Homo sapiens: one gene and its partners. The protein of the gene in region 1 interacts with the protein of each later gene in a pairwise test. Each region holds a gene or a part of one and is shown on either strand. Other genes may lie near its edges.

Region 1 (7,019 bases):
CGGGCGGGACAGTGGAAGGTGGGAATAGGGCTTGGGATTCGAGGGTGGGAGTTCATCCAGCATCAGAGTCCTCCTCTCTAACTCTGTTATTTGCCTCTCTTGTGCTGCTGGACCCAGAGAGAGGTACTATGCCTATTTTCCCCCTCCTACACCTGGACCAGATGCCTGGAAGCACCCAAGCTCCCCTCTTCTGCCCTGCCCCTTCCCACCCGCTATGCTCCACCATTACCCTCCACCTCAGCATGCTTGCCTGTCTACCCCTCCCCCCCAAGAAGGCAGCACCTATGGGGGACCAGCTGTGGGCAGAAGCCCTGGAGGAGCTGTGATGGGCAGGGAGGACGTGGGTGGGGTGGGGACCAGGCTCAGCACTGGATGGTACTGGGAGACACTGAGGTGCCCCTTCCCCAACAGGGACTTTGCCTACGTAGCTCGTGATAAGCTGACCCAGATGCTCAAGTGCCACGTGTTTCGCTGTGAGGCACCTGCCAAGAACATCGCCACCAGCCTGCATGAGATCTGCTCTAAGGCACGGCCCCCTCCACTCCCTGGACTAGTTGCCACCTTTGCTCTACAAGGGTGTGGGTGGGGTCACTGAGTGCTGTAGGGGGGCCCCAGGGCAATGAGGCTCTAATAGATTCTCCCTGGCTCCTCGCCTCCCTTCCTTCCTCAGATCATGGCCGAACGGCGTAATGCCCGCTGCTTGGTAAATGGACTCTCCCTGGACCACTCTAAACTTGTGGATGTCCCTTTCCAAGGTCAGTGTCAAAACCCCTCCAGGTCCAGCTCAGCTTTGTTGGCAAAGGTGGGTGACCCAAGGAAAGGCATGAGCTCCTGGACAGCGCTGATAGAAAAATGAACACATGAAGACTGAATACTCCAATACGTGGAGGGACTCCGGTTAAAGGGAGGCAGGGGACGAGATGAAAGTAGGGCCTCGGCTGGGCAAGTGTCCAGCTTATGCCCTGCTGGTGGGGCTGCGGGTGAGCAAGGTCTGCCACCATGATCAACCTTCTCTTCTTTCCCATAGTGGAATTCCCAGCGCCTAAGAATGAGTTGGTCCAGAAGTTCCAAGTCTATTACCTGGGGAATGTACCTGTTGCTAAACCTGTTGGTATGTGTGTCCTTCTATACCCAGGGGCTGCTACCTTGATCCTAAAACTCTGCCCCTACCCTCTGCCTTCCAATACTTCTTCTACCAGACCTTCCTCATGCTTGGTGTCTCCCTACCCTTTAAAATGCATCCCACCTCCCCATACTTCTGTCCTAGCTCTATTTCCTGTCCTGCCTATAGCAGCAGTCAGCACGCCTTCGCTGAGCATCAGCCACGTGAGTGGTGCTGAACCAGGCACAAAGGGAGACCCCACTCCTTCATCCCATGGAAAAGCTTTGGTGGGATTGGGAGGCTGATGTTAGATGACTGGAGGACACCAGACAGCAGCCTGTAGCTGGGTTTAGTGTTACAGCACCAGCTGTGGGCTGGGAGCATCTGGAGAAGGAAACAGTGAGCATAATTGTCACATACTTCATTGTTGCAAAGAATTTTTTTTTTTTTTTTTTTAAAGACAAGTCTCGCTCTGTCCGCCAGGCTGGAGTGCGGTGGCGTGATCTTAGCTCACTGCAACCTCCGCCTCCTGGGTTCAAGCAATTCTCCTGCCTTAGCCTCCTGAATAGCTGGGATTACAGGCTCCCGCCACCACGCCTGGTTAATTTTTGTATGTTTAGTGGAGACGGGGTTTCACTGTGTTGGCCAGGGCTGGTCTTGAACTCCTGACCTCAAGTGATCCACCTGCCTCGGCCTCTGAGAGTGCCGGGATTACAGGCGTGAGCCACTGTGCCTGGCCTGATCTGGTTAACTCTTATATTTCAGTGCTTTCCTAGTGTCTGCTATTTATTTGTTTATTCACTTAACAAATACCTTTGAAGCTTACCATGTGGCAGGCCCTGGACTAGGCACAGGGAGAACAGTGGCCACAGTCCCATTTTCCTAGAGGTTATAGAAGGTTATGGTAGAAAAAAACCAGGAATTAATAAAATAATCACACAAATAAATGTGTGAGTTATTCGTTGAGAGAAAGTAGCAAGATATAACAAAGGAATTTCATCTAGTCTGAGGTTGTAAAAGACTTCCCTGTGAAAGTGACATTTGAACTGAAATCCAAAAAATAAGTAGAAGTGAATGCGGTCAAGTGGAATGGAGGTGGGGGTGGGATGGGGGAAGATCAGGGTCTACAGTGGGAGGCACTTTGGCATTTCCAAGGTACTGAAAGAAGGCCAATGCAAGATGAGGCCGACAGCTGGGCAGTGGTCAGGCTGCCAGGTCAGGGACCTCAGGGGCTATGTTAATGATTTTTTCTTCATCCTAAGGGCAGCAAGGAGTTATTGAAGTCTCCGAGAGTGCACTTGCCTTAATCAGATTTGAATTTTGAAAGCTCACTTTGGCTATTTCATGGAGGGGACTGTTAAGTGGGTGGAGGTGGATGTGAGCAGCTCAGTTAGGAGGCTCTTGCTGTAGTCCTGGCCAGTAATGAGAGTATCTTGGGCAACAATGGAGCTGAAGAAGAGTGCGTGGATTCAAGAGCTGTTTAGACGGGTATAGTCAACAGGCCTCAGTGATTGGTTCGATGTGGGTGAGGGACAAGGATGACTCCTAAGTTCCTGGCTGTTGGACCTTCTGGATAGTGGATTATTTCTTTCAAGGTGGCAGATGCTTGAAGAGGCCAATTTGAGCGTAGAGATTGTGAGCTCACTTTTGGACATGCTGAGTTTGAGATGCCTTTGGGGAATCTGAGAGGCAAAGTCAGGTTGGCAGTTAGATTCACAGATCTGGAGCTGAGAGGAGAGGTCTGGGCTGGAGATAGGAGTTTTGGCATTATTGGGTTGTAGAGGTAATCAAAGCCATGGATGTAGAGTAGCTTGGCCCTGGAAAGTGGGCATCCTGAAGTGAGAAGGGAAATGAAGCTAGTCATAGCCTTGAGGCCCTCCAACATTCAATGGATGTGTAGAGGATGAAACTGCCAAGGATAGTGACAACTGGAGAGAGGCAGGAAGAAGAAAAGAGGCTACTTGAAAAAGAAGTGGTAGGGTATCATGTCAAAAGACACACAGGAAGAACTCAACAAATGTTTGATGAATGAAATAAAAAATGAATTAATGAATAAATGAGACTTGCTTCAGATTACATGGCCAGGAAAGCTAGACCTGGGAGTCAAACCCCGGTCATCTTTAATTCTCTGCACTTTCCCTTATACCGTGCTGACTTTCACGTCCAAAATCTTACATTGAAAGAGGGGACCCTTCTTAGAAAAGGTGGGGATTGAACTGAGGTTTTGAAAGAAGGTTTGGATTTGCAGAGTGGAGTGGGTATTTCATTTGGATTCGATGGCACTGCCAAAGACTTGGAGCTGGAGGTGAGAAAAGCATGCTGACCCTTACGCCTTTGCTTTCCTCCTTCTCGTCCTCAACTTCTAAACCCTTGTTGGCTCTTCCATTTGTTACCCCCATTCCCATATGTGCTTCTTTCCATCTACCACTTGACTCTGGTCCTCCCTATGCCAGATCAACTGCCTGTGACCCTTGACTGCTCCGCTTGGACAAGTGGTCTCTAAACTTACTTCCTGCTTTATCTTATGCTCGTTTTTAAACATTAGCCCATCCAGAAGCTGCAATATTCATTCATTAATTATTCATTTATTTAACAAGTGGTAATGAATGCCTGATACATGTCAGGCACTATTCTAGCTTCTTGGCATGCATTAATCAACAAAACTGACAAAGATCCCTGCTTTTATTTAGCTGACATTCTAGCAAGGAGAGACAGACAATAAAATGAGTAAACCATGGAGTATGTTAGAAGGCAACAACTGATACAAAAAAAAAAGAAGAGAAAAGCACAGCAGGATTAGGGGGATTGCATGTGGGGCTGGAGGTCAAGGTCACAGTGTAGGTTTTAGTCCTGAGTTATCAAATCTGACAGCCTTTTTCCATACCTTGGTCCACTGCTTTCACTGCTTCCCTGCCAAACTTCCCAAGACTCTGAGGCCAGGCTCCATCTCCCACAGCCCCATCTATTCAGCAGTTTGACTATGATGTCCCTTTCACACACCTGAACTTTGAGATTTCCAATTGCCCTGGCCTAAATGTCATAAACATCACACCCCTCTGCCTGGCTTTTGAAGCACTCTGCAATCTGACCTGGCCCATCCACTTCTGTGACACTTGGTTTTACCAGTTCGGGTGCATTTGCCCTTGTTGCCTTGAGAGTGACTTGCTCATGCATCTGGAATTTCTTCAGCAGATAAGCCCTGTGTTAGAATTGGGGACAGAGGGATGAATTAAATTCCATTTCTGTTCTTGAGATGGCCACGGCCCAGTGTGGAAAAAAGTTTTCCAGCAGTTACAAGACGTTATGGTAAGAGTTGTCTCAGAGTTGTCCTCTCCCTGCCCTGCAGCAGGCATGGCTTCCTAGACAGCACCTAGTTGGAGCCCTGAAGGATGACAGTCTGAAGTTTCTCAGTCCAGCAGGGAAAGGGCACTCAAGACAGAGGCTTTTCCCTCAGTTGCAGTCTGTGTCTCTCAAGGGCATTCTCTTCTCTTGCTTTGTATTCCCCATCTGCTTTACAGGCCATTTGCCAAGATTAGTTGTTAATAATAATGCTACACAAATCATCTGAAGCTCAGGGAGCAGTAAAATATGAAGCTTGACAGCTCTGGTGAGGCCAGTTTTTGGAAGACTTGTATGCTTTTGGGAGCAGTTTGGCCTTGATCCAGCTAGAAGTCAGATGAGCAAGGCCAAGATGGGAGAAGACATGCAAGGAAGACATTTGTCCTCTGCCCAAAAGAGTCCACGTGGTCTGCTCCTAGTGGGAGCTGAGAGCCACTAAAAGGGGCAGAGGGCCTGGGAGTGGACCACAGAGGCATGTGCCTTTTGCACTGGCATTGTGCAGAGACAGTAGATCACACAGCCAGCGTATGAGTGTGGGGACTAGAACTGATGCCTTTGCCACAACATGTGCTCCTGCCTTGGTGCTCTGCTGAGTGCAAGCAAAAGTGGGATCCATGAGGGGAAATGTTTAACAGCAGTTTGAGGTGGAGGAGGCCATGTGTTATAAGGGAAAGTTGATTGATCTGAAAGTCAGGAACCTTGGGTTCCTTGGCTCTTGAGCACATTATAGACATTCTTGAGTAGAACTAAGATCTTGAAAGCCCTTCTAGTTCTGAAAACTAGTAATATAGAGAAGAGGTAGGAGAAAGGCATGGCTAAGAACCCAGGCTCTGGAATCAGACTGCCTGAGCTCAGGTCCCCATTCCTCGATGTGACCTAAGGCATATTACCTATCTCTTCCGTTTCCTTATTTGTAAAATGGAAATAAAGTAATCTATTGTGATGTTGTTGTGTGGGCACAAATGAGGTAATACACTGTAATGACTTAGCACAATGTGATACAGAGTAATCACTCCTCAGATAGATATCTTAAAAAATAATTGGGTCTTGGGAGAGGACTGGCCTGTAGGGTCTGATTTGGGAGTTATTGTGGTGTGAAGCAATGTGATGTCTGAGTGTGATGAGCGCTGAGAGAGCATGATTTGGGGAAATCAGAACTTTGAGAGGTCAGTCAGTTCAGAAGTGTGGAGGAATAGGCAGAGCCGGTGAAAATAACGAGCCTAGGATCCAAGATTTTAAAAAGTAGGAAAATGTCCAGTTACTGAAGCCAGGGGAGGAGAGCCCCAGGGAAGGGATACTTGGACAGCGTTGTCCAAAATGTAGGCTGGCAAAGTGGGGATGGGGCAAAGGCCCTGGGTTTGATTGGGTGGAACTAGAGGTCCAGGGTAGAGCTGGGGTATCCTCTGTCTACCCTCAGTGGTATCTTGTGTCCATATGTTCTAGGGGTAGATGTGATTAATGGGGCCCTCGAGTCAGTCCTGTCCTCCAGCAGCCGTGAACAATGGACCCCAAGTCATGTCAGTGTGGCCCCTGCTACCCTCACCATCTTGCACCAGCAGGTAAAGAGCTGGGGTAGAAGTCGTGGCTGCGCCTTGCCATAGAGGGGAGACTGGGGGTGAGGGGAAGAGCTGCTAAGATGGATGTGGAACACAGTGTGGGGTTGGTGTTCCTTTTTAACTGAGTTCCCTCCATGCAGACAGAGGCAGTGCTGGGAGAGTGTCGGGTGCGTTTCCTCTCCTTCCTGGCCGTGGGCAGAGATGTCCACACGTTTGCATTCATCATGGCTGCCGGCCCAGCCTCCTTCTGCTGCCACATGTTCTGGTGCGAGCCCAATGCTGCCAGCCTCTCAGAGGCTGTGCAGGCTGCGTGCATGGTAAGCTACTAGTAGGGTGGTGTGGTGGTGGCGTGGCCCCATGGGAGGTAGGCTGGGGAGTGACTGCCCTGCTTGCCTCCGCAGCTTCGCTACCAGAAGTGTCTGGATGCCCGTTCCCAGGCCTCCACCTCCTGCCTCCCAGCACCCCCTGCTGAGTCTGTGGCACGGCGTGTAGGGTGGACTGTCCGCAGGGGTGTTCAGTCGCTGTGGGGCTCCCTGAAGCCCAAACGGCTGGGGGCCCATACCCCATGAAGAAGCCCCCACCTTCCCTCCACCTGCTTGTGTTGGGCCCCAGGGAACTAAAGGGTGTGGGTCAGGGAGGGGTCTAGAGGCTATTCCTAGGCCTCAGGCCTCCCAAATATGCCCCTCCCCAGTAGCTACGGTTCCCTGCCTAGGAGCTGGGGAGGGAGAGATCTAATCCCTTCAAGGAAGTGATAACACTGGAGTGGTAACAAGAGGAGCAGGAAGCAAGGCCAGCCCTGGTTCTCCATCCCCATGTGTTTCAGGTGGAACAGGAGGAACTGGTCCAGGCCAGGCCTCATCCTCCTGGACCCAGCAGGGGCAGAAGGAGGAAGGGACTGGTCCAGGCATGGGTCCCTTCCCCCTGCTCCATGGGCACCTCTGCTGTATTGATATCACTAATAAAGTCTGTCTGCACTGCTGTGTGCCTTCTTATGCCTGTACCACACCATCAACCCATTAGCC
Region 2 (7,063 bases), on another chromosome or scaffold:
TGCCTGTAATTCCAGCTACTTGGGTGGCGGAGGCAGGAGAATCGCTTCAACCCGGGAGGCGGAGGTTGCAGTGAGCCGAGATTGCGCCACTGCACTCCAGCCTGGGCGACAGAGTATGACTCAGTCTCAAAAAAAAAAAAAAAAAAAAGTGACAGCATGTAACAGCAGTCATATCTCACCTTCCCCCACCCCCATGGAGCCAAATAATTACCCCTTGAAGCCACTTGCTATGTGGGCTCTAAATTGATACCACATAGCCATAAAATGCCATAGTCTAGACACCATAACTCATACCCTATAGTTCAACAAGGTATAGCCAATCACTAATCAATGTTGTTTCTGTAAGCCAATGAGAATTCCTGTTAAACAATTTTGTGTCAGCCCACTCCTTGTCCTCTTTTGCCTTTAAAAACTTGCTTGTGGCTGGGCATGATGGTTCATACCTGTAATTCCAGCACTTTGGGAGGCCAAGGCAGGATGATCCCTTGAGCCCAAGAGGTCAAGGCTGCAATGAGCTGTGATCGTGCCACTGAACTCCAGCCTAGGTAACAGAGCAAGATCCGGTCTCAAAAAATAAAAATAGGCCGGGCGCGGTGGCTCACGCCTATAATCCCAGCACTTTGGGAGGCCGAGGCGGGCAAATCACGAGGTCAGAGTTCAAGACCAGCCTGGCCAACATGGTGAAACCCCATCTCTACTAAAAATACAAAAAAATTAGCTGGATGTGGTGGCAGGTGCCTGTAGTCCCAGCTACTCGGGAGGCTGAGGCAGGAGAATTTCTTGAACTGGGAGGCAGAGGTTGCAGTGAGCCGAGATTGCGCCACTGCACTCCAGCCTGGGCGACAGTGGAGACACCATCTCAAAAAAAATAAAATTAAATTAAGTTAAAATAAAGTGGCCAGGTGCAGTGGCTCACACATGTAATCCCACACTTTGGGAGGCCGAGGAGTGTGGATCACCTGAGGTCAGGAGTTAGAGACCAGCCTGGCCAACATGGCAAAAACCTGTCTCCACTAAAACTACAAAAATTAGCCAGGCATGGTGGTGCACACCTGTGGTCCCAGCTACTCGGGAGGCTGAGGGAGGAGGATAGCTTGAACCTGGGAGGCGGGAGTTGCAGTGAGCCAAGATTGCACTACTGCATTCCAGCCTAGGCAACAGAGTAAGAATCCATCTCCAAGAAAATAAAAAATAAAAATAAAAACCACATATAAAAATAAAAAATGCTTGTATCAACATTCCCCAAGGCAACTTGGAAAAGTGTCCCGAGCAGTCGTTCTCTACCTTGGCCCAAATAAACTCTCTATATTAATTTTGCCTCAGCTTTTTTTTTTCCTCACTGTTGTTTTTGTTTGTGTGTTTTTCTTTTTTGAGACAGAGTCTCACTCTGTCGCCCAGGCTGGAGTGCAATGGTGCAGTCTCCACTCACTGCAACCTCCACCTCCCGGGTTCAAACGATTCTCCTGCCTCAGCCCCCCAAGTAGCTGGGCCAAGTGGGTGGCACGCGCCACCGCGCCCGGCTAATTTTTGTATTTTTTAGTAGAGATGGGGTTTCACCATGTTGGTCAGGCTGGTCTCGAACTCCTGACCACGTGATCCACCTGCCTCGGCCTCCCAAAGCGCTGGGATTACAGGCGTGAGCCACCCCGCCCAGCCTGTTTTGTTTTTTTTGAGACGGAGTTTTGCTGTTTCACACTGAGGCTGCAGTGCAATGGCGTGATCTCGGCTCACCGCAACCTCTGCCTCCTGGGTTCAAGTGATTCTCCTGCCTCAGCCTCCTGAGTAGCTGGGATTACAAGCATGCGCCACCACGCCCAGCTAATTTTGTATTTTTAGTAGAGACAGGGTTTCTCCATGTTGGTTAGGCTGGTCTCAAATTCCCAACCTCAGGTGATCCACCCGCCTCGGCCTCCCAAAGTGCTGGGATTGCAGGTGTGAGCCACAGTGCCCGGCCCCTTTTTCTTTTCTTTTTTTTTTAGAGACAGGGTCTCCCTCTGTTGTCCAGGCTGGAGTGCAGTGGCACGATCTTGGCTCATTGCAACATCCACCTTCTGGGTTCAAGCGATTCTTCTGCTTCAGCCTCCCGAGTAGCTGGGACTACAGGCACCTGCCACCACGCCCGGCTAATTTTTTGTATTTTAGTAGAGACGAGGTTTCACCATGTTGCCCAGGGTGGTCTCGAACTTCTGAGCTCAGGAAATCTGCCTGCCCACCTTGGCCTCCCAAAGTGCTGGGACTACAGGTGTGTGCCACTGTGCCTGGCCCTTTTTTTTTTTTTTTTTTTTTTTTTTTTTGAGGCAGAGTCTCCCTCTGTTGGCTCAACTGCAACCTCCACTTCCCAGGCTCAAGCGATCCTCCCACTTCGGCCTCCTGAGTAGCTGGGACTACAGGTGTGCGCCCCCACTCCTGACTAATTTTTGTACTTTTTGCAGAGATGGGGTTTCACCATGTTGCCAAGGCTGGTCTCGAATACCTGGACTCAAGTGTTCCGTCTGCCTCAGCCTCCCAAAGTGTTGGGATTACAGTTATGAGCCACCTCGCCCGGCCTCAGTTTCTTTCTTTAAGGTCAAAAATGTATGAGGCTACTTTTTTCCAGTTCCTTTATGTTTTATATATATAACCATCACATAAAATTCTCACCATGTGAGGCACTAACTGCTTTATAAATATTAACCCATCTAATCTCATCACAATGAAGATATGTACTATGAGGTAGGTACTTATCTCCATTCCATTTTACAGGTAAGAAAACTAAGTTACAGAGATTTTAAGTAAACTGCCCAAGATCAGACAACTAGTAGGTAGCAGGAGCCAGGCCTTGAACTCAGGCAGTCCAGCTCCAGAGTTTATTTCTTAATCACTGCACAATGCTACCTCTTTTCTCTTTTGTTTCTTTTCCTTTTTGCTTTCTTCTTCCTCTGCCTACCCTTTGCTGTTGGTGCTCTCCAGGGCTCTGTCTTTAGCCTTATCTTACTCTATTCTCTCTCCCTGTGAGATTTCATCCATTCTTAGAGGTTTTCTGTAGACTCTCCAGTGAGATCTCTAAGCTGGGGAGTAGGACCATTGTTTCTAGCCATATCCCTAATGGCCACCACAGAACTTGGCACATACAAGTGCCAACAAAGTATCTGAATGAATGACAACTCCCAGCTCTATCTCCAGACTGGAGCTGAGCTTCGAGACCTGGACACTCAACTGCCCACTAGACATGCAAAGGATGTTAGCCAAATAAGGGGAAAGTGGGGATAGGATAAAGGGGGAAAGAGTATTCCAGGAAGAAGAGATCAAGCCCTGCCAACTCCATTTCCAGAGTTGTTAAGCTCATTTCTTTCTTCCATCTCCACTGACACAGACCTTCCCTCTTACCTGGCCCACAGTCATGGTCTCCCTGACTCATCTTGCTCCCCTCCACTCGACAGTCCTGTGCCACTCGGTGGCAAAATCTAATCCCCTTCCTCCCTTGCTGATAACCCTCAGCTGGTTTACAAGGCCTCCTCTCACATTTTGTGCCGCAGAACAGAGAAGGAATTGTAGGCCCCTGAAGACCCCAAGCTGTCTCTCCTCGGAGGCCTTTGCTCTAGGGGCTGGTCCCTGTGGGCTGGCATGCCCCTTCTGCGAGCTCTTAAAGACACTGCTCAGGTGTCACCGCCTCTGGAATGCCCACCCTGGGGCTCCCAGCTTGAACTGCCTCCTCTCCGCTTCAGTCCTGGTAAAGGCGGGCCTTAACAATCGTTGAGTCCCAGAAGGCTTCACTTCCGGGCTCGTCTGCTTCACCAGCCAGTGAGCTCGGGCGAGCCCGTCCATTCTGGGTCTCACTATCCCCACACCTATCCGTATGTAGAGTGGCGCTAGCTAGGTCAGACCTCGCCTGAAGACCCTGACATCTGCCGCTGGGCGACTTGGCCCCGCCCCCTTGCCTCCCTTGCGCGGCACCGCCCCACTCCTCCGTGCTCCCCCCGAGGAAATGGTTCAACCGAAGGGCGGTGCCAAGGTGCCCGGGCCGCTCCGATTGGTCAGGGCGAGCCGTACCACGGCGGTGGCGGGGGAGCGCTTCGTGGGCAGCCGGCGGGCTCCGAGGCCGTGAGCGCAAAGCCTCAGGCCCCGGCTCCCTCCTGAGCTGCGCCGTGCCAGGCCGCCCGCCGGGATGCAGTGGGCCGTGGGCCGGCGGTGGGCGTGGGCCGCGCTGCTCCTGGCTGTCGCAGCGGTGCTGACCCAGGTCGTCTGGCTCTGGCTGGGTACGCAGAGCTTCGTCTTCCAGCGCGAAGAGATAGCGCAGTTGGCGCGGCAGTACGCTGGTGAGCGGGCAGAGGGCAGGGAGGGGAGCGGCCGGCCTGGGAGCGGAGCCTAGGGTTCCGAAGGCGCCATCCCCGGACCTAGGACCGGTGCCAGCCCTGACTCCGCCGCCCCTCTGCCTCCGCCAGGGCTGGACCACGAGCTGGCCTTCTCTCGTCTGATCGTGGAGCTGCGGCGGCTGCACCCAGGCCACGTGCTGCCCGACGAGGAGCTGCAGTGGGTGTTCGTGAATGCGGGTGGCTGGATGGGCGCCATGTGCCTTCTGCACGCCTCGCTGTCCGAGTATGTGCTGCTCTTCGGCACCGCCTTGGGCTCCCGCGGCCACTCGGGTCAGTGCTAGCGGCGGGCCAGACTGGGAGGCTGGGGTTGTAAAGGGGCCCATGCCCTCCTTTCTGATGTTTGGCTGGGCCATGCAATGGCGCGAATACCCTGATAGTGTCATGTGCGATTGTCACTCAGGGCGCTACTGGGCTGAGATCTCGGATACCATCATCTCTGGCACCTTCCACCAGTGGAGAGAGGGCACCACCAAAAGTGAGGTCTTCTACCCAGGTGGGTAAGAAGGCTCTGTCAGAGAAGTGGGTCCCTTCACGCGGGGGGTGCCCACAATTGCGGGGAGCATGGCATGGAAAAGGAGTGTGTTGGGGGGGCCCTCCTCATGGTTCCCTTCCTCCACCCTCCCATAAGCCACAGGTGATTGGTTGGGGCAGAGCTGAGGGACTCTTGCTTTCCTCTGTCAAGGGGAAACAAAACATAACAACTTCCTATTAAACATGTCTGATTTTTATCTGCCCAGGCACAATTTTGCCCAGACAGTATTCCAACAACTGTTGGGGAGACAATGGGTAATCAGAAATGCTCTCAATACCCCAAAAGACAAGACAGACAGTTATCTTTTTATTTGTTTGTTTTTTGAGATGGAGTCTTGCTCAGTCGCCCAGGCTGGCGTGCAGTGGCGCGATCTCGGCTCACTGCAAGCTCCGCTTCCCGGGTTCACGCCATTCTCCTGCCTCAGCCTCCCGAGTAGCTGGGACTACAGGCGCCCGCCACCACGCCCGGCTAATTTTTTTTGTATTTTTAGTAGAGACGGGGTTTCACCATACCAGCCAGGATGGTCTCGATCTCCTGACCTCGTGATCCACCCGCCTCGGCCTCCCAAAGTTCTGGGATTACAGGTGTGAGCCACCGCGCCCGGCCGCTCCCCTGCCTTTTTTTTTTTTTTTTTTTTTTAATAGTGAAACAATTTACTTAAGAAATAGAGCACTGGACTTCCCAGTATATTTGAGGTTGGGTGTATGCATCGCAGGCATGGTGGTTGAACAGCTACACTTTTCAGATAAAGCCTCACAAGTCCTGGAACTACCCCTTTCCTAGCTACAAGCCCAGCCCAGGTTTAGCTAAATTTCTGCTTGATTCGAGTGAGGCTTGGGAGTGCAGACTTCCATACAGTGGGTCCATGGCCAAGCGAGGTAGCCGTCCATGGCTTCTCCAAAGAGAGGACGTGGGTCAGATGATGCCACAGAACATTTAGGAGTGGCCATCTGGGCCAGCCCAGTGAGGTAGGGCTTTTTGTTTTTCTGAAGCTCCCTCTCCATTCCCCACCCCTAGTTAGTCCATGGGCCAGGGAAGCAGCAGCCATGGAAGGGCAGGGCAGAGCTGGCTTTTCACTTGGGTGCTCCCTGTCCCCCAGGGGAGACGGTAGTACACGGGCCTGGTGAGGCAACAGCTGTGGAGTGGGGGCCAAACACATGGATGGTGGAGTACGGCCGGGGCGTCATCCCATCCACCCTGGCCTTCGCGCTGGCCGACACTGTCTTCAGCACCCAGGACTTCCTCACCCTCTTCTATACTCTTCGCTCCTATGCTCGGGGCCTCCGGCTTGAGCTCACCACCTACCTCTTTGGCCAGGACCCTTGACCAGCCAGGCCTGAAGGAAGACCTGCGGATAGACAGGAGCGGGCAGGCCCGCACATATCCACTTGCTGGAGCCCATGTTTACAGACAGGGACATACACCATGCAGATCCTGAGTTCCTGCTGTATGAGCAGGGATATCCATGCTTATGTATCCAAACACAGAGACCCATGGGAACAAATGAGACACATATAGATACTGAGACCTGTGTGTACAGTAGGACCATGCACTCACACCCATCTGGAGAGGGAGCCCCCGGTATACCAAGGGAGCCAGTTGTGTTCAGACACACACATCACAGCTTGACTCACTAACTGAGGCCTTTCCATAGCTCCACAGCTTCCCACCTCCTCCCCACCAAACCGGGGTTCTAGAGTTAAGGATGGGGGAGGGTATTATACTGCCTCAGTCTGACTCCTCAACCCAGCAGCAATTTGAGGGGATGAGGGGGAAGAGGAGCTGCCTTTTGGAGGCCCCCTTCACCTGCAGCTATGATGCCCTTCCCCTTCTCCCCTGTCCTCACCATATGCCTTATCCCCATTCTACTCCCCTGCTATGCAAGTGCCCCTGTGGCTTGTCCCCAACCCCCTCAGCAACAAAGCTCAGCTGGGGAACGAGAGTAATTTGAAGAATGCTTGAAGTCAGCGTCTTCCATTCCAGAAAGACCCCCATTCTTCCTTTGGGGGTATGATGTGGAAGCTGGTTTCAGCCCAGGACCCACCACTGAGGAGAGGATCTAGACAGGTGGGCCTAATTCCAAGGGGCCCTTCCTGGCCTGGAGAAGGCCTTTTACACACACACAACACATACACACACACACACACACACACATATCACAGTTTTCACACAGCCCCTG
Region 3 (7,476 bases), on another chromosome or scaffold:
ACTGCACTCCAGCCTGGGCGACAGAGCGAGACTCCGTCTCAAAAAAAAAAAAAAAAAAAATTTGTACTGAGTTGGTGAGTCACATGAGCTCTGCTACAAACAGACTCAAACTACTCAAGTTAAGGCAGTTTGAAGCAAAAAAGTCTCCTTACCTGGGCGTGCTTGGGATGTTAAGACAGAAGTATCCTTCAGCCCAGCCCAGCACTGCTCTAACAGCTCCAGGATGCCAAACATGTACCCCTGGTTTTGCTCGGCTTCTCTTTGTTTCTTGGTGTAAGCGGTGCCCTCCTGTGCCATCTTGTCTGCAAGAGACAAGTGGGATTTTACAAAATTTCAAGATGCCGGCATGGGCTGGGCTGGGTTGGGTTCTGGAGGGAAAACCCCGGAGAAATTACCAAGAAATGTCTTAATAAGACCAGAGCTCTGGATCCTCTGGGCACTCTCTAGAGGCGGGATATATACAGTCTCTGAATTTTAAAATAGAAAACAGTGGGCAGCGGGGAACGGAGTAGAGGGAATCAGAGGTGCCAAACATTAAAGATATTTTGGGTAATAAAAATTAAAAGTTCATGTATCGCAAGGACAAAAAACCAAACGCCGCATGTTCTCATAGGTGGGAACTGAACAATGAGAACACTTCGACACAGGAAGGGGAACATCACACACCAGGGCCTGTCGTGGGGTGGGGGGAGGGGGGAGGGATAGCATTAGGCGATATACCTAATGTAAATGACGAGTTAATGGGTGCAGCACACCAACATGGCACATGTGTACATATGTAACAAACCTGCACGTTGTGCACAGGTACCCTAGAACTTAGAGTATAATAAAAAAATTAAAAGTTTATGATTTAAACAAAGATTCTTATTTCCTGGGATCATTTTGTCACCTCAGTGCTTGCTTCTGGGTTATGGACACTTGGGGGGGTGGGCCGGATTAACTGTCTTGTCTCTAAACACCTGGGTGCGCTGGCGCTCACTCTCAGCTGCGAGCTGAAGCCCACGCTGCTCTCAGGCTTCCCGCAACAGGCACCTGCGACTTCGCTCACCAAAATCTTCCAGTGGCCACAGTGAGCGGGCAGGACTGGTGCCAGCAAGCCCCAAGCATCCCAGGCCCTCTGGACGCAGGTGACTCTTCTGGCCTCTTTGGAAAGCCATTGGAGCTCGAGAGGCATAGCCAGCTGCCTCCTTTCCGTCCATCCCCAACCGCGTTCTCTAAGCCACGTTCTGTGCGCCTTACTCCCAGCACTCAGCCATTCCCCAGCCCCAGAGGCCTTGGAGTAGTGACCTCTGCCCACCAGAGAGGAGGGGGCCGGAGGGTGGGGCGGAGCCTTGTGGCAAGGCAGGTGGGTGCAGGCCTCTGGGGCCCCAGACTGCCGCGTCTGGCTCTACCAGGCTGTGTCTCGGGCCCCGTGCCTGCAGCTGCAAGGCGGGGAAAGACCTATCGGGAAGATCCACCTCGGCCTGGGCAGAAGGAAACTTTACTGAGAGTCTTCTCTGAGTTTGGAATTATGCGGAAATTGAACCCAAGATGAATAACACGCAGCCACAGCCCCAGAGAAGCTCGAAGTCTAGTGGGCTGCACCGACTGCGACAGGGACCCAAAAGAGGCTGGGGAACAGGGATTGAAATGGAAGTGTGAGAGTGAGAGCATAGAAGGGGTCCTAGCCCAGCCCAGGAAACAGAAAAGTCTCCCCATAGACAGTGAGAGGCTTGTACTGATACCTGAGGTACGCGCAGGAGCTGCGTGAAAGGAGAGGCCCAGAGCCAGAAAAGAGGAAGGCGCATCCTGGACGCTCTGCGCCCTGGAGGGAGACGAAAGGCCCGGAGAGAAGCAGATTAGGTCGGTGCCCTTAGAGGCCTCTTCCTTCACTTCCGGGAAACAGCGGCGGTTCCCTGACAAAATCCCTGTTGCTCGGGGGTTCGGACGCCTTGCTAAGGCTGGCACGCAGCGGACCTTGAGTAGCTGCGCTGTGTACTGAACGTGTGCACAGCTTCTCCAGGCAAATGTGCAAGCGGAAAGACCTCATCCAAGCGTTATCTCCAGCCCTGGAGGAGAATGAACTGGTAGCCTGGGGCCAAACTTCAGGCCGTGGACAAAGCAGGAGGAGTATTTAGGCAACCTCTGTCCTAATGCTTGTTCTGGTTGTGACCGAAGTTGCTGACTCTCCTCAGGGGTCACGTCTCCAGGACGTGCTACCCGGTGGTTTAGACCCGTCAGGGAGGCACAGCGTGAAGGGACAGCGCAGCGCAGTAGAGGCACCTGCTGGAGACAGCACCAGGCCAGACCCCAGGATCACGGGAACTCCTGCTCCCGCCACAGCTCTAAAGAGTGTTGAATAAACCGGTGGTCACCGGTACTGCGTAAGGGGTGTGCGTGGCTTTGCAGTTCGCCTAGGAGACAAGCTGATGCACGGCCTGGAAGGTGCAGCCCTCATCCCTGCGTTCCCTCCCCGCGCGGAGTTCCTGTCTCAAGGCCAAGACGCGCAGCGCTGATGCTGGCCCCTTCCTAGGTCAGTGCAGCTGGACCAGGCAATCGGGGTCTCCGAAACGTCGGGGGGTCAGCTGGCGCCCTGCCCACCATCGAACGCCCTTCGTATCACTCCGCTCCTCATTGCGAATTGGACTGCGCATTGGCTGCGACCCAAGGCTGAACACAAGAAGCTTGGAGAGGAGCTCGGGCGTTTGAGGAGAAGGAAATATGAGGAATTGCAGGAAGGCGCTCGCCTGCCCGAACTGCCTCCGGGCAACTGGAAAGGATTGTCCTGGAAACTGAGAGGAGAGAAAGGACGTAGGACCTTGTGCCAGATCCCCTTGCTGAGTAATTTCCAAGAGCTTGGTTTGCATTAACCCAGAACTTTGGGTGTGCGTTTGGTGTCCCCTGGGGGGTTCTAGAGTGAGAGATTGGCGGGTCCCCTCCGAACGCTGGATCTCGCTGCAGATATCAGTATTTCTCTCATTCCTTCCCAAAGCCGTCGGGATCGCCCAGTAGAATTAGAATTGGGTGATTCCTGAATCTCCTATCCCTGGCTGGCTCTGAATATAGCGCACCGCTGGTCAGACCTGAGTAGGGGTTGCCAGCGACGCTCGGAAACCCTTTCCAGACTGGGCTGAAAAGTGCGTTTGCTTCCTGAGACCCTAAGCTAAATGAAACTTCCTGCAGAGAAAGCAGGGTTACAGGGCTGGATGGAGGCTCTGGAGAAAGGCCAGAGCTGGGGTTGGGAAGGAATGTAAAGGCTGTGCACCTGTTTGCCAGCCCTCGGAGGTGGAGCCCATGGCTAAGCAAATCAAGCGCAGGATCAGTCTTTCCAGCGTGGTTTATCTGCATGGCAGGTGTCGATTGCCCCAATAGTCTCATCAGGTGTTCCACATTGGGCTGCAGAGCCATGAAATCCCTAGGCGTGACGTCTAGTGGAATGGGGGTGAAAATAGGGATTTTCAAATCCTATACATCAAGCATCACTCCCAGAGTCACTTTTGACAAATCACCTAGTTTTTCTCAACCTTAGTTTCCTAATCTGTAAAATGGGGATATTGCCCACCTCTCTGAAAAGTGCGCCAAGGGTGAGAAGTTCCACGCGTCTTTCTAATTTTAGGAAGGGGAAGCAAAGTCTTCTCCTCAAACTTGATACACTACATGCTAGAGAAAGATCCTCCCTTCCGGCCTCCTCATTCCCTGTCACCCTCCCCCACTCCTAGCCCCTCGGAGCCAACGGAGCCTTGCGCGTTTCTGGCCGGTCCTCCCAAGAGAGAATGGTGCAAAAGCCAATAAGCCTGGAACACACGCAGGTCCCGCCGGGCCTGGGACAATGGTTTCCATTTAATAAATATTTCCCCCAAGGGCATTTCACATCGGGCAGGCAATTATTCAAAGGAAACAGGCGCGCAGGTTGGCTCTGCGGGTTATTTCGTCCTCTTTACCCGAAGAATGCTCATTTGACGCAAGAAACGAGTCTCGCAGCCTCCCTGGGTGGGAAGAGGCGCCCAGGGACAAACCGACCCTGGTTGCGATACACCGTGAGACTCCGCTGTAGGGCCGCTGCAGAAGGGGCACCGGGAAGAGCCCCATACCCAGCCTCTAGGCTCTTCTTACGGTATGAACATTTGTGGAGTAAAAGTTGGAGGTTTAAAGACACTAAATAATAATAACATAAATGGGAACTGCAATAGAAATCTCAGCCCCATCCCTGCCCCAAAAGTGAAGAACAGGTCGTAGTGCTTTTAAGGGCTCACCAACTAGGGTTCGAAATCTCTGCATTGCCTGACGCGAGGCCTTCCAGGAGCAGGTCAGACAACATTGCTCAGCCACCCAGGGTCCCAGCGCTACGCCCGGGCGCCGCATCCTGGGGCAGGGGTGGATGCCTAGTTGCAGGGGCTTCCCGGGAGAACACTGCCAAAGCACCGCCGAGGGTGGGGCGCGAAAAGTTTATTTCGCTTTTACCCTGAGCCTGCTATATGTTATTTTTCTCTTCCAAGGATATTTGACAAGAGGGCAAAGTGCTGTCCTTGCATTTCGCGGCAAAGCTGTCCTATTTATCAACACAAGCTCTCGCCTCGCTCCCTTTGCTGTCCCTTCCCCGGCCTTTGTATTTCAAGCCCTAATTCTCTTTCACAACCGGGAAAGGAAACAGGAGACGCGGAAGAGTTTTATTTGTTGACAGTGCCCGAGACAATGTGGAACCGAAGTCCCCAGTCTAGAGCTAGCCTCTCTGCTCTAGCCCTCTCTCTGCCTCTGTCCCTCACACCTCTCCCCGCCCCCACCAGTCGCGCTCTCTGTTTCTTGCACCGGCGTGTTGGCAGGTGCGCCCCCTCGGCTTCTCTGCTGCTGATTGGCGCCCAGGTTGGGGAGTCGCCGCCCCGCGCTTATGTCAGAGTGCGTGCAGTCCCGGCCCACCTCGCCTTTGAACTTCGCCGCTTTTGGCTCTCGTTCACCAGCCTCCCCGCATTCTCAGCCAGGTGCAGCGCTAGGCGCGGCAGCTCCGGGAAAGCCACGGGAAGGGGGAGCCACGACTGGAAACGCAAGAGGAGAGAAGGGAACTAGAGAAGGCAAAGGTGGAGAGGGGGAGAAGGAGGAGCTTCTTGCCCTGGCTAAAAAATTACCTGGCCACTTAATCCCGGAGACTCCGATACTTGGGTCCCAGCCCCTGGTGCCTGAAGCCCCCCGGCCGATCGCCCTCTCCTCCCCCGCCCTTTCTGCCCCCACTCGCTCCCCCGGGGCTGCCTGGGCGCTGGGACTGGCATGATCAGCTGAACTTTGTGGGGTCAGCGCTTCTCTCTGGCTTCCCCTCAGCGGCGCCAAGGCGAGGGGAGCGCAGAACCCCGGCTCAGGACGGACAGACAGACGGCCAGCCGCGCCCAGGCTCGTCTGCAGAACCCTTGCACTCCCTACCCCCACCCACCTAGCCGCCGGGACCATGTCCAAACCTTCAGACCACATCAAGCGGCCCATGAACGCCTTCATGGTATGGTCCCGGGGCCAGCGGCGCAAGATGGCCCAGGAAAACCCCAAGATGCACAACTCGGAGATCAGCAAACGCCTAGGTGCCGAATGGAAGCTTCTGTCCGAGGCAGAGAAGCGGCCATACATCGATGAAGCCAAGCGGCTACGCGCCCAGCACATGAAGGAGCACCCTGACTACAAGTACCGACCTCGGCGCAAGCCCAAGAACCTGCTCAAGAAGGACAGGTATGTCTTCCCCTTGCCCTACCTGGGCGACACGGACCCGCTCAAGGCGGCTGGCCTGCCCGTGGGGGCCTCCGACGGCCTCCTGAGCGCGCCCGAGAAAGCCCGGGCCTTCTTGCCGCCGGCCTCGGCGCCCTACTCCCTGCTGGACCCCGCGCAGTTTAGCTCGAGCGCCATCCAGAAGATGGGCGAAGTGCCCCACACCTTGGCTACCGGCGCTCTGCCCTACGCGTCCACCCTGGGCTACCAGAACGGCGCCTTCGGCAGCCTCAGCTGCCCCAGCCAGCACACGCACACGCACCCGTCCCCCACCAACCCTGGCTACGTGGTGCCCTGTAACTGTACCGCCTGGTCTGCCTCCACCCTGCAGCCCCCCGTCGCCTACATCCTCTTCCCAGGCATGACCAAGACTGGCATAGACCCTTATTCGTCAGCCCACGCTACGGCCATGTAACCCCCAGCCCGGCCCGGACCTGAGGCGTGGTCTGAAAGCCGGGTCTGCACCCTGTCCTCTGAGCCTAGCCCCGGCCTGCAGACGCCTCCGGGGTCAGCCCTGCCGCTGTCCCTTACACCACCCAGACTTTTCCTCTCTCTTCCAGGGGGAAGGGTGGGGCGTCCTCCCGGACCCAAGGCGCAGACAGGTACCGGAAACTTGCAAACGTTATGTCAGCTACACAGCTGCCCCTATCCCGACTCTCCCAAAACAAATCTCCGACTGTACCCCCTTTGGACAAAAAAGTAGGCAGTTTTGCTTTATTTATATCCCCTTCACTCTCCTCGGATAGGCTTTGGACTCTGAACTCCCAGATTCTGATATTATATCTACAATATGCATATATTTTTTCCTTTTGTCCCCTGAAGAAAAGAGTTAGCTGTGTCTCTGTGTTTTGCCATCAGACACAACTAGGAGCCATTTGCTCTTCATGTATGGGGGGGAAAGGCTTCAAAGTTTTAAATTACAGAAAGGGAAACATTTCTATTTAAAACCATGCTATGATAGTGTTTGCTTCTTTAAAGGGAAAACAAAAAGGACCTACATGGTTATTTACTTTGTGTAAAGCAGTGCTTCTAGAGATCTAAGTTTACTTTTAGACAGAATGTCGGGTTATGAAGTCAGGAAGTAGAAGGTGAACAAAAAATTAAAAGAACAAAAACAACCTAAATGGTCATAAATGTTTTGACGATGTCTTGGAAATGTACCTAGAAGGATTTTACCTCGTTGCTCTGTTCATTTGTTGAACAAAGACGTTTTGAATAAAGACAATCTGTCATTGTAAAAAAGTAACCTTTGATGTGCCTAAAATCTGAAGTCAGGAGCCAGGTTGGAGGGACTGGAAAGTCGGGTGCGGGGAGGCTGAAAGTGCATAGAGCGACTTTAAGCAGTGATGGCTGGTGGCTGCCCCCCGTTGGCCCAGCTTGGTGGTCTGCGGGTTGGGTGTAGAAGGGCCTAGAGCTTCGGATCCGTCCGGAATGCGCCCTGGAGATTGCTTTTTGCCTTTAGAGGCTAGACAAAGGTATCGTTCCCTGGGACTTCACTCTCTCCTCCCATTCTTCCCAAAAGGGTCAGGCCACTTCAAGGAATGAATGAACTAAGTCAAAGGCCGACCCAGACCGCTGAGATCTGGGTGAGTTTACTTTTTAAAAAACCAAACGCTGAAGGAGCAGGGAGAAGCACCGAGTCTCCTGGGAACCAGTTGCGCGCTGAACACCCCGTCCTGCATTGGATGTTTAAGTTCAAAGCATGGGAGAAGACTGGGGGAATCAGGTATTCTGCCTTTTTAGGTGTTTGGAAAG
Region 4 (7,963 bases), on another chromosome or scaffold:
GTCTTTCCCTACCTCCACCTGGTCTCTCCCTTGACACAAAGGGATTATGGGGATTACAATTCAAGATGAGATTTGGGTGGGGACACAAAGCCTAACCATATCGGGAGGCAAAGTTTATCTTTCTAACTCTTCTAGTGAGCTAGCTCCTGCTGGGTTCCCTTCTATTACTTTTTTGGCACCCCCTTTCCCATACCCTCACTCCTCCCACCATAGAAATCCAACAGATCTACAATTATTGGCAATGGCCCGGCCTTCAAACTTCTCCTTCAATATCCTACCAAACCTTACCAGTCCTGTATCCCAACCCATCAGGGCTAGATTTTCAAGATAAACCAGTGGTCTTCAAACTTCAGCATAAATCAGAATCCACTGGAGCACTTGTTAAAATACAGATTCCTGGGTCCCATCCTAGAAGTTCTGATTCAGTAGGTCTCGGGTGGGGCCCAATAATTTGCATTTTTTATAACTTCCCATATGCTGCTGATGCTTCAAAGGCCACATTTTAAGAAACACTGGAAAGAAACTAAAGCAAAACCAGGGGCAGCAGGTGATAATGCAGAATTGAGGAAAGGGATCTTTAGTTCATTTTGACTCAGCCCCTTCACAGAGTTTCTGATTTAATTGGCACTGTCTGGATTTGGTGAATCCCGGATCATTTTCCCTGCTTCACCTTGTCTTCCTCCTCCAACTTTCTTCTCTTTCTTTTCTTTTCTTTTCTTTTCTCTCTCTCTCTCCCCCTCCCTTTCTTTTTTTTGATGGAGTCTCGCACTGTCACCCAGGCTGGAGTACAGTGGCACAATCTCGGCTCACTGCAACCTTCACCTCCCAGGTTCAAGCAATTCTCCTGCCTCAAGTAGGTGGGACTACAGGCATGCGCCACCACACCCGGCTAATTTTTGTATTTTTAGTAGAGACGGGGGTTTCACCATGTTGGCTAGGCTGGTCTCGAACTCCTGACCTCAAGTGATCCACCTGCCTCAGCCTCCCAAAATGTTGGGATTACAGGCATGAGCCGCCACGCCCGGCCCCTCCTCCAACTTTCTGATCTTATTTTTCAGATGGTTCTCAGGGCTTCTCCACTTGAGACTGACTCTACCATCTTTCTCGTTCTCCTATCACAAAGCCACAGTTTCAGGACAAAGCCCTTTCCTGACCTCTTAGCTCCATTTCAGTGCCCTCTTCTCCCTCCCTGCCCCTGAGTTGCTTGCTGCTCCTCTATCCAGTATTAGCACCCCCAACTCCAGCAGTGACCTGTGGAAAGCTGGGCTCCAATTAGGGCCCACTCTTATCTAGCAGGGGTAGCCATTTCTGCTCCCAGGCAGTAGAGTCTGGCTCCACAAACATTGGCATGCTAATGACAGCCACCTGCTTGCCCCTGGGAAGTCTCTGTTTGTTGCAGCTTCTTTAAGGACATGGAAATACTGAAGCCACCTCATTTACATGCTTCTGTTCATTCCTTTACTCAACAAACATTGATTGAACACCTGCCAGACACCATGCTGGGCCCAAGGGACCCCACAAGGAAACATCAAACATGAGCACATACATGTTCATGGAAGCGCCCGGGAGTCCCAAATGACTCTTCATAAAGGGGAATCTTTTGGCTTCACTCATCAACGAGGACAGACATTCAAGGAAGAAAACTCACGAACTGACCACTCATGAGCCCTCTTGCCTCCTCAGCCCTTCCATCTCCCCTGTTCTTGGGAAGGTGACCCGGGACAAAGACTGAAAGGCATGATTTCAGGCCGGGTGCGGTGGCTCACACCTATAATCCCAGCACTTTGCAAGGCCGAGGCAGGTGGATCACGAGGTCAGGAGTTCAAGACCAGCCTAGCCAAGATGGTGAAACCCTGTCTCTACTGCAAATACAAAAAAAAAAAAAAAAAAAAAATAGCTGGGCGTGGTGGTGGGCGCTTATAGTCCCAGCTGCAGCAGAGAATTGCTTGAACCCAAGAGGCAGAGGTTGCAGTGAGTAGAGATCACGCCACTGCACTGCAGCCTGGATGACAGAGCACTCCGTCTCAAAAAAAAAATAAAAAAGGAAAAAAAAAGAAAGGCATGATCCCAGAGAGTTTCCAAACCTCTTTATTGAAATGAATGTTCTGATTCACACGTCTCAGTCGTCGGCCCACTGCACTGAGTGAGATAAGGTATGTAAAGCTAGTGAGCTAACACCTCTCTCCATATTGACACACATACACTCACCATGCATTGAAATACACTGACACACCAACACATGCCAACACACACATTGACACACAGATATACAGACACACAGCTAGCACACACTGACAATACACACGAACACACCGACACATCTACTCACACATCAAGACCAACACACACACTGACCCACACCCCACCGAAGGAGGCTGGAGGCCCAGGCCCCAGGAGGGACTTGTAGCCGCAGGTGGGCAGGTATTGGAGGAACCAAAGGGTCCCAGGAGACTTGAATTAAGCACTTAGTTCAGGTCTTCGAGGTTCAGCGTTTTGGAGGAGGAGGACGCAGTGAGGTTCTGGTAGTCTCTAGGGACAGGAGGGCCGAATGGGGCATATGGATGAGACACCAAGGATTCCGTGCTCAGGTGCCCCCAGCGCTGGGCCGGTAAGTACGGAGCTTCAGTCCGCGAGGAGTGCTAAGGCGGGCGGGGCAGTGCGTGGGGGATTCTCCCGGGAGACCCGCAGCCCTCCAGTCCCCTCCCGTTCCGGCAGCAGCTTTCTGCTCTGGCTTCCAAATTCTCCCCTTTTGTCCCACCACCACCCAAACCCCAAGTCCAGATCGGGGCTAGTGACCTCGGGGCCTTTCAGTCCACCACGCCCTAGCCTTTGCCAGGGAAGAGCCCTGTCCCAGACACCCAGCCTGGAAGCCGCCAGTCACCTCTGACTCCCCGCCCCCATGCGGTTGGGGCCCAAGCCTCACCGTGGTTCCTCAGATATAGCACTGGTCCCCCGTGTCACTGCCAACCCAGTCCAGGGCTCAGGCCCTGCCCCAAAGCTCCAGAGAGTCTGAAAGACTCCAGCTGCCCCTCTTCCTTGCCACCGCCATCCGCCCTATGGCCTGCGCCTTCTGTCTCGCGGAGCTCCTCTGCGCTGATCCCTGATTTTGCCAGGCTCTTCTCTTTAGGCCGCTCCTGGGTCTCCAGCACAATGAAGGCGCACAGTGGCGCTCCCTGAATACTTGGCTCTTCATGACTGTCCTTACTGCTATTCCCTCACTGTGTCTCTTCTTTCTTCTCCCCGCCCCCCTCGCACGCATCCAAGTTCTCTGCCCTCAGCTTAATAGAGTGCCTCCTGACTGCGAGGCCCTGCACTCGGCCCTGGGATGCGTTTGCTGAGTCCTTGTTCTCCAGGCGCACAGGGTACATACATAAAGGGCTTCCCGAGAGAGTGTGAGAAGCTCCATCCAGCAGGTGGAACCAAGTGCCAGGCATGCTCTTCTTTGGCTACTCCATTTTCTTGTCTTCCCTGACTTCTCCGAGACCAGGGCCTCTGGATCGAGTCCCTTCTTCCTCTCTCTCCCTGGTTCCTTCTTTTCTTTTTCCCTCTCTCCTGCCTCCTCCTCAGCTGCTCCAGCCTTGGGCCTTTACGGGGTCATCTTCCATGCTCCATTGGGGCCCCCTCTTGGGCCCGGGTTTCCTCCATAGCCTTGTCATCCCCTCCCCCATCTGGGGTCCCTCTGGCGGGCCCAGGTCTCTCTCCCACACCAGGGAACCTGCCCTTTTGAGGAGTGGAATGTACTGTCCCTCCCGCTGGGGCCTCGGGCATGCCAAATCTGCCAGCGTGCTCCAGTGACAGGGAGCTAGCAAGAGGCCAGTCCCAAGAGAGAGGGGAGGGCGCCAAGGCCGGAGAAGTGGAGAGGTGCCCACGAGAGAGGACCCGCGGAGGTGGGCCACGGGGATAAGGAGGGCGGGCGGGCGCACCCCTGCCTTCGGAAGTTCTCTCCTCTGCGCCCTATTGGCCGCCTTGTCCCGGGCTGAATGAGGGTCAAGGAGAAATCAGGGGGCGGGACAGAGTGACTGGAGGCCGCTCCCCGTCACCCGCCCCTCCATTTCGCTCCATAGAGCTGAGAACCTTCATCTCCAGCCCTTCCTCTGGTACTAGAAGGGGTGGGTGGTCTTGCTGAGCGTCTAGGGCTGGGTCGGAGAGAGGAGGCGTGGGTTCCGTCTGTACTAGGTACCCAAAGGTGGTGAGCTTGGCTCCACGAAATTACAGCCCACAGCACCCAAGGCTTGGAAACCCCAGGGCAGAAGCAGCGTCTCAAGACCTCTAGCCTCGGACCCCACATGCCACAGCTCAGCTCAGTTGCCGGGCTGCAGTGCGGCTCCCCCCACGGGCCCCCTTTCTAAGCTCTACTGTGGAGCGGCAGGTGCCGCAGGCCTCCCCGGTACCTCGGCCGCAGCTGCGCTCCCGGGCCATGGAGGGAGGGAGACACGACAGTGGGGCATCGAGACTCCAGCGGCCAAGGCGCACCCATCTAAGCACCTTGGGATCTCGGTGGAAAGGAAGGGGGGTAACGGGGGCCGGGAGGAGAACTGCAGAGCTCGGCCGCTGAGCAGAGTATGGGAGGGGGGAGGGGCGGGGGCTCCCTTCCAGCCTTCGGGGTCTGGGGACTTAGGGATGTAAAGGAGAGCAGGGGGGTGTGACAATTCAGCAGAGGTCGGGACGTACCACGGAGCCAAGTGGCGGGGGGGGCAGAGGACGTGGTCACCGAGGGGAGCCCCCGCCCCCCTTCGTAGAAGCCTATGGCTGGGGTTGCAGGAAGAACTGGAACTGGTCTGGCCATAGGGGGAAGCGGCGCGTTAAATCCGCCCCCTCTCCATACCCTACTTTCAAGGGGTGGGCGGTAGAGGGGAGGTTGGGGTTGGAGCAGCGGCGAGGGGGCCCCTCCCTTGCACCTCCCCCCACCGGACTTGGTCGCGCCCGAAGTGTAACACTTTCTCTTTGTCGGAGGAGCTCCTCTGTTTCCTGTGCAGTAGCTCCCGTTGCGGCGGCACCCGTGGCAGCCCTGGCGGACGCAGGAGCGATGGCAGCGACCGATATAGCTCGCCAGGTGGTAAGTGCAGAGCTTGGGTGCCAGGGCCGGGGCCGAGGGCCTGGTGAGGGTCAAGGAGACCTGGCCGCCGCCGCCACATCGCGAGGAGGGCAGTGGGCAGCATCCAGGAGCCAAGGGCACGGTGGGACTTCTGCTCCCGGGGTCAGCAGCTCAGTCCCTCAGCCTGTCCCGGAAAACGGTGGTGGCGCGCGGGGGGCGGGGGGCGGCAGGGGGGCAGGCAAAACCTGCGGGCCGGCGGCTGAACTTGCATTGCCCAAGAGCCGCAGTGAGCGCCACCGCCTCCCTCGCTGCAGCTGCGGCCCCACGGCTGGGGCGTTGCCGAATGAATGGCCGTAGGAGCCGCCGAGCCCTCCGGGTCCCTGGCACCCTGGCCTTGCCGCGCCCCTGCGCACGGCTGCCCGTTGTGACCCGGGACCGCACAGGCAAAGAGGCGCGGGGCTGGGGTTAGCCTGGGGCAGAAGGCGGTGAGTGGCGAGGGGGGCGGGGAGGTGACTGGCTGGGATAGGGTTTCTCTATATGCATTACATATGTGACTGCGTCTGTGTGTGTATCGGTGTGCGCGTATGTGTGCACGCGCGCGCGCTCGTGTCTTCCCGGGCGGGCGGCGGCGGCGCCGGGGTTCTGTCTGTGACCCAAAGAAGTCCGCGTGTTTCTCTGAGTGTGCTCACCTCTGTGGTGTGTGTCCGAACGCCTCTCTGTCTGCTTGTGCTGTGTGCCTCTGGGTCTCATTTGTGCGTCAGTGTGGGGTGCAGTTGGCTGGCCTGTAGGTGGCTGGCTGCGTATTTTGGCATGTTTTGGAGCGGGCCTCTGAGGATCTGTCTCGGGTGCATGTTCAGTGTAACTGGGCTTGTGTGCCAAAACCTGTGGAGCTGGCTTCTTTCTATGGAGACTCAGGAAAATAAGTGTGAGACTCGCAAAAGCGGTGCCGTCTCTTTTTTTGTTGGCGACCGACTCTGGGAAAAAAAAAATCTTCATTTAAAGAACTGAAGTTTTCCAGCCTGGGATGTGCAGAGAAACCATGTTGAAGTGACCTGAGGCTCCATGTTTGTTTTTTAAACCAGAAGTTTGGTTGCAAAGGGCGATGAATTCCATTTGGGGGGGACACCCTAGCTATTCTATTCATCCATGGGTATCTGGGACTTTAATAAGCCCACCAGCACCCCGAGGTGAGGAAGGAGTGGGAGACAGAGGTAGGTCAAATCCCATGACACCACATACTACTTGACGAAAATCTCTGAACCACATAAAAATGTTTTTCAACCTTGTAGCTTACTTATTTAGGAAAATAGTTCATGCAATGCAACTACAGTACAAAAAAAAAGCCTCTAGGTATTTGGTGTAATTGAAATTGATTTTACAAAATCTGAAGCCAGAATCTGATAATATTTTCTCTACAGAATATGTATTAATGTCTCTTTTGTCCCTGTTTGGAAGGGCAGGATCATTTCTTCGGAACCTCCTCCACCCCCTGCACACCCTAGCACAGAGCACTTTATGCAGTCATGTTGTGGAAGGACCAGGAGTAGACAGGGGACATTCTCTGTGATGATGCAATTTGAGAGAATTTTCTTCCCCCAAGATTGGCACTCTCGTTGTTTATTGCTTTAGTGTTTTGAGGGCTCCCTCTTTTCTGCTGTGGCTTTTCTGCTCCTGGTTACCTGCATTTCAGAGATGGTATAGCTGAAGTAGAGGAATTAATCTCTGGGATTACACTAGCTCCATCCAAAAATGACGCTAATGATTTTTCATGTCAGCTAATGAATTTGCATCGACCTGTCCTCCATACTCTCACCAGTTTCTCTTGCCTGGATTAGGATTGCAGGGCAGATGTTGCAATGGGGAACATTCCAGAAGGTTGTGTGTGTTTCACCTCAGGCACAACTCAGGCAACCTAGAGATGCCCTTTGTTCTGCAGATGGGGGTGAGGGGGTGCTTTAGGGCCACTTGGTTTGCTTTGCATGGCTCCAGTTTGCTCTGGCTGGCCTTGCCATACTGTATGATGAAGAACATAATTGTACGCCAGATTCTGAAGCTGAAAGAGCAGCCTAAGCACTCGAGACCTTGTTATCGTGATAAATGGGTTTCTGGGAAAACTGACGTCACTCTCCATGCCCCCCTCCCCCAGCCAGTGAAGCTCCTGTTTATGTGTCATTTGTCTCTCTGTTCTCCTTTGTGTCTGCAATAAGTTGTAATTCACCAGGGAAGACGGAGTTAACTCAGGAGACCTTGGACATCTGGTTGCTGCTTGTTTCCTCCAAGGAACATGTATTCAGGGTTTGGGAACAGAAGACTAGAGAATAAACCTAAGTGTGGCTAGCTTAGGAATTCTTTTTTTTTTTTTTTTTTTTTTTTGAGACGGAGTCTTGCTCTGTTGCCCAGGCTGGAGTGCAAGTGGCATGATCTCGGCTCACTGCAACCTCAGCCTCCCAGGTTCAAGCGATTCTCCTGCCTCAGCCTCCCGAGTAGCTGGGATTACAGGCACCCGCCACCACACCTGGCTAGTTTTGATATTTTTAGTAGAGGGGGGTTTTCACCATGTTGGCCAGGCTGGTCTCGAACTCCTGACCTTGTGATCCACCCGCCTCAGCCTCCCAAAGTGTTGGGATTACAGGCATGAGCCACTGCTCCCGGCCAGGAATTCTTTTTAATGAGCTCTGAGACGTGGTACCATGCGAGTAAGTGCCCTAGTGTGTGTGTGTGTGTGTGTGTGTGTGTGTGTGTGTGTGTATGTGTATGTATGTGGGGGGTGTGTTCTTTCTAGAATCAGTTGAGAGTCACTGTGGGTAAACATCCTTAGTGACTAAAACAAGCCTTCAAGTTGTTGGGTAGGGCTTACATTGCACGCAGCCAACTTGGAAGTTCAATTCTGGTGCACATAATACAAGTCCGTCCCATTTGAATGAACAC

The links.
Region 2: the proteins of APBB1 (region 1) and SIGMAR1 interact in binary tests that used the Homo sapiens proteins (3 or more experiments, as listed by UniProt).
Region 3: the proteins of APBB1 (region 1) and SOX14 interact in binary tests that used the Homo sapiens proteins (3 or more experiments, as listed by UniProt).
Region 4: the proteins of APBB1 (region 1) and SEPTIN6 interact in binary tests that used the Homo sapiens proteins (3 or more experiments, as listed by UniProt).

The regions. Positions count from the first base shown.
Region 1 is NC_000011.10:6,395,081-6,402,099, reverse strand, and holds the end of APBB1 (amyloid beta precursor protein binding family B member 1), read left to right. Parts: coding exon 1-18; intron 19-117; coding exon 118-123; intron 124-411; coding exon 412-526; intron 527-670; coding exon 671-755; intron 756-1,027; coding exon 1,028-1,111; intron 1,112-5,884; coding exon 5,885-6,000; intron 6,001-6,137; coding exon 6,138-6,314; intron 6,315-6,398; coding exon 6,399-6,566; 3' UTR 6,567-6,975; downstream 6,976-7,019. UniProt on the Homo sapiens protein: Transcription coregulator that can have both coactivator and corepressor functions. Adapter protein that forms a transcriptionally active complex with the gamma-secretase-derived amyloid precursor protein (APP) intracellular domain.
Region 2 is NC_000009.12:34,634,779-34,641,841, reverse strand, and holds the start of SIGMAR1 (sigma non-opioid intracellular receptor 1), read left to right. Parts: upstream 1-4,054; 5' UTR 4,055-4,144; coding exon 4,145-4,295; intron 4,296-4,421; coding exon 4,422-4,622; intron 4,623-4,729; coding exon of another isoform or gene 4,730-4,752; coding exon 4,753-4,845; intron 4,846-5,983; coding exon 5,984-6,210; coding exon of another isoform or gene 6,211-6,224; 3' UTR 6,225-7,063. UniProt on the Homo sapiens protein: Functions in lipid transport from the endoplasmic reticulum and is involved in a wide array of cellular functions probably through regulation of the biogenesis of lipid microdomains at the plasma membrane.
Region 3 is NC_000003.12:137,759,372-137,766,847, forward strand, and holds SOX14 (transcription factor SOX-14), read left to right. Parts: upstream 1-4,943; 5' UTR 4,944-5,413; coding exon 5,414-6,136; 3' UTR 6,137-6,963; downstream 6,964-7,476. UniProt on the Homo sapiens protein: Acts as a negative regulator of transcription.
Region 4 is NC_000023.11:119,690,169-119,698,131, reverse strand, and holds the start of SEPTIN6 (septin-6), read left to right. Parts: upstream 1-4,963; 5' UTR 4,964-5,026; coding exon 5,027-5,056; intron 5,057-7,963. UniProt on the Homo sapiens protein: Filament-forming cytoskeletal GTPase. Required for normal organization of the actin cytoskeleton. Involved in cytokinesis. May play a role in HCV RNA replication.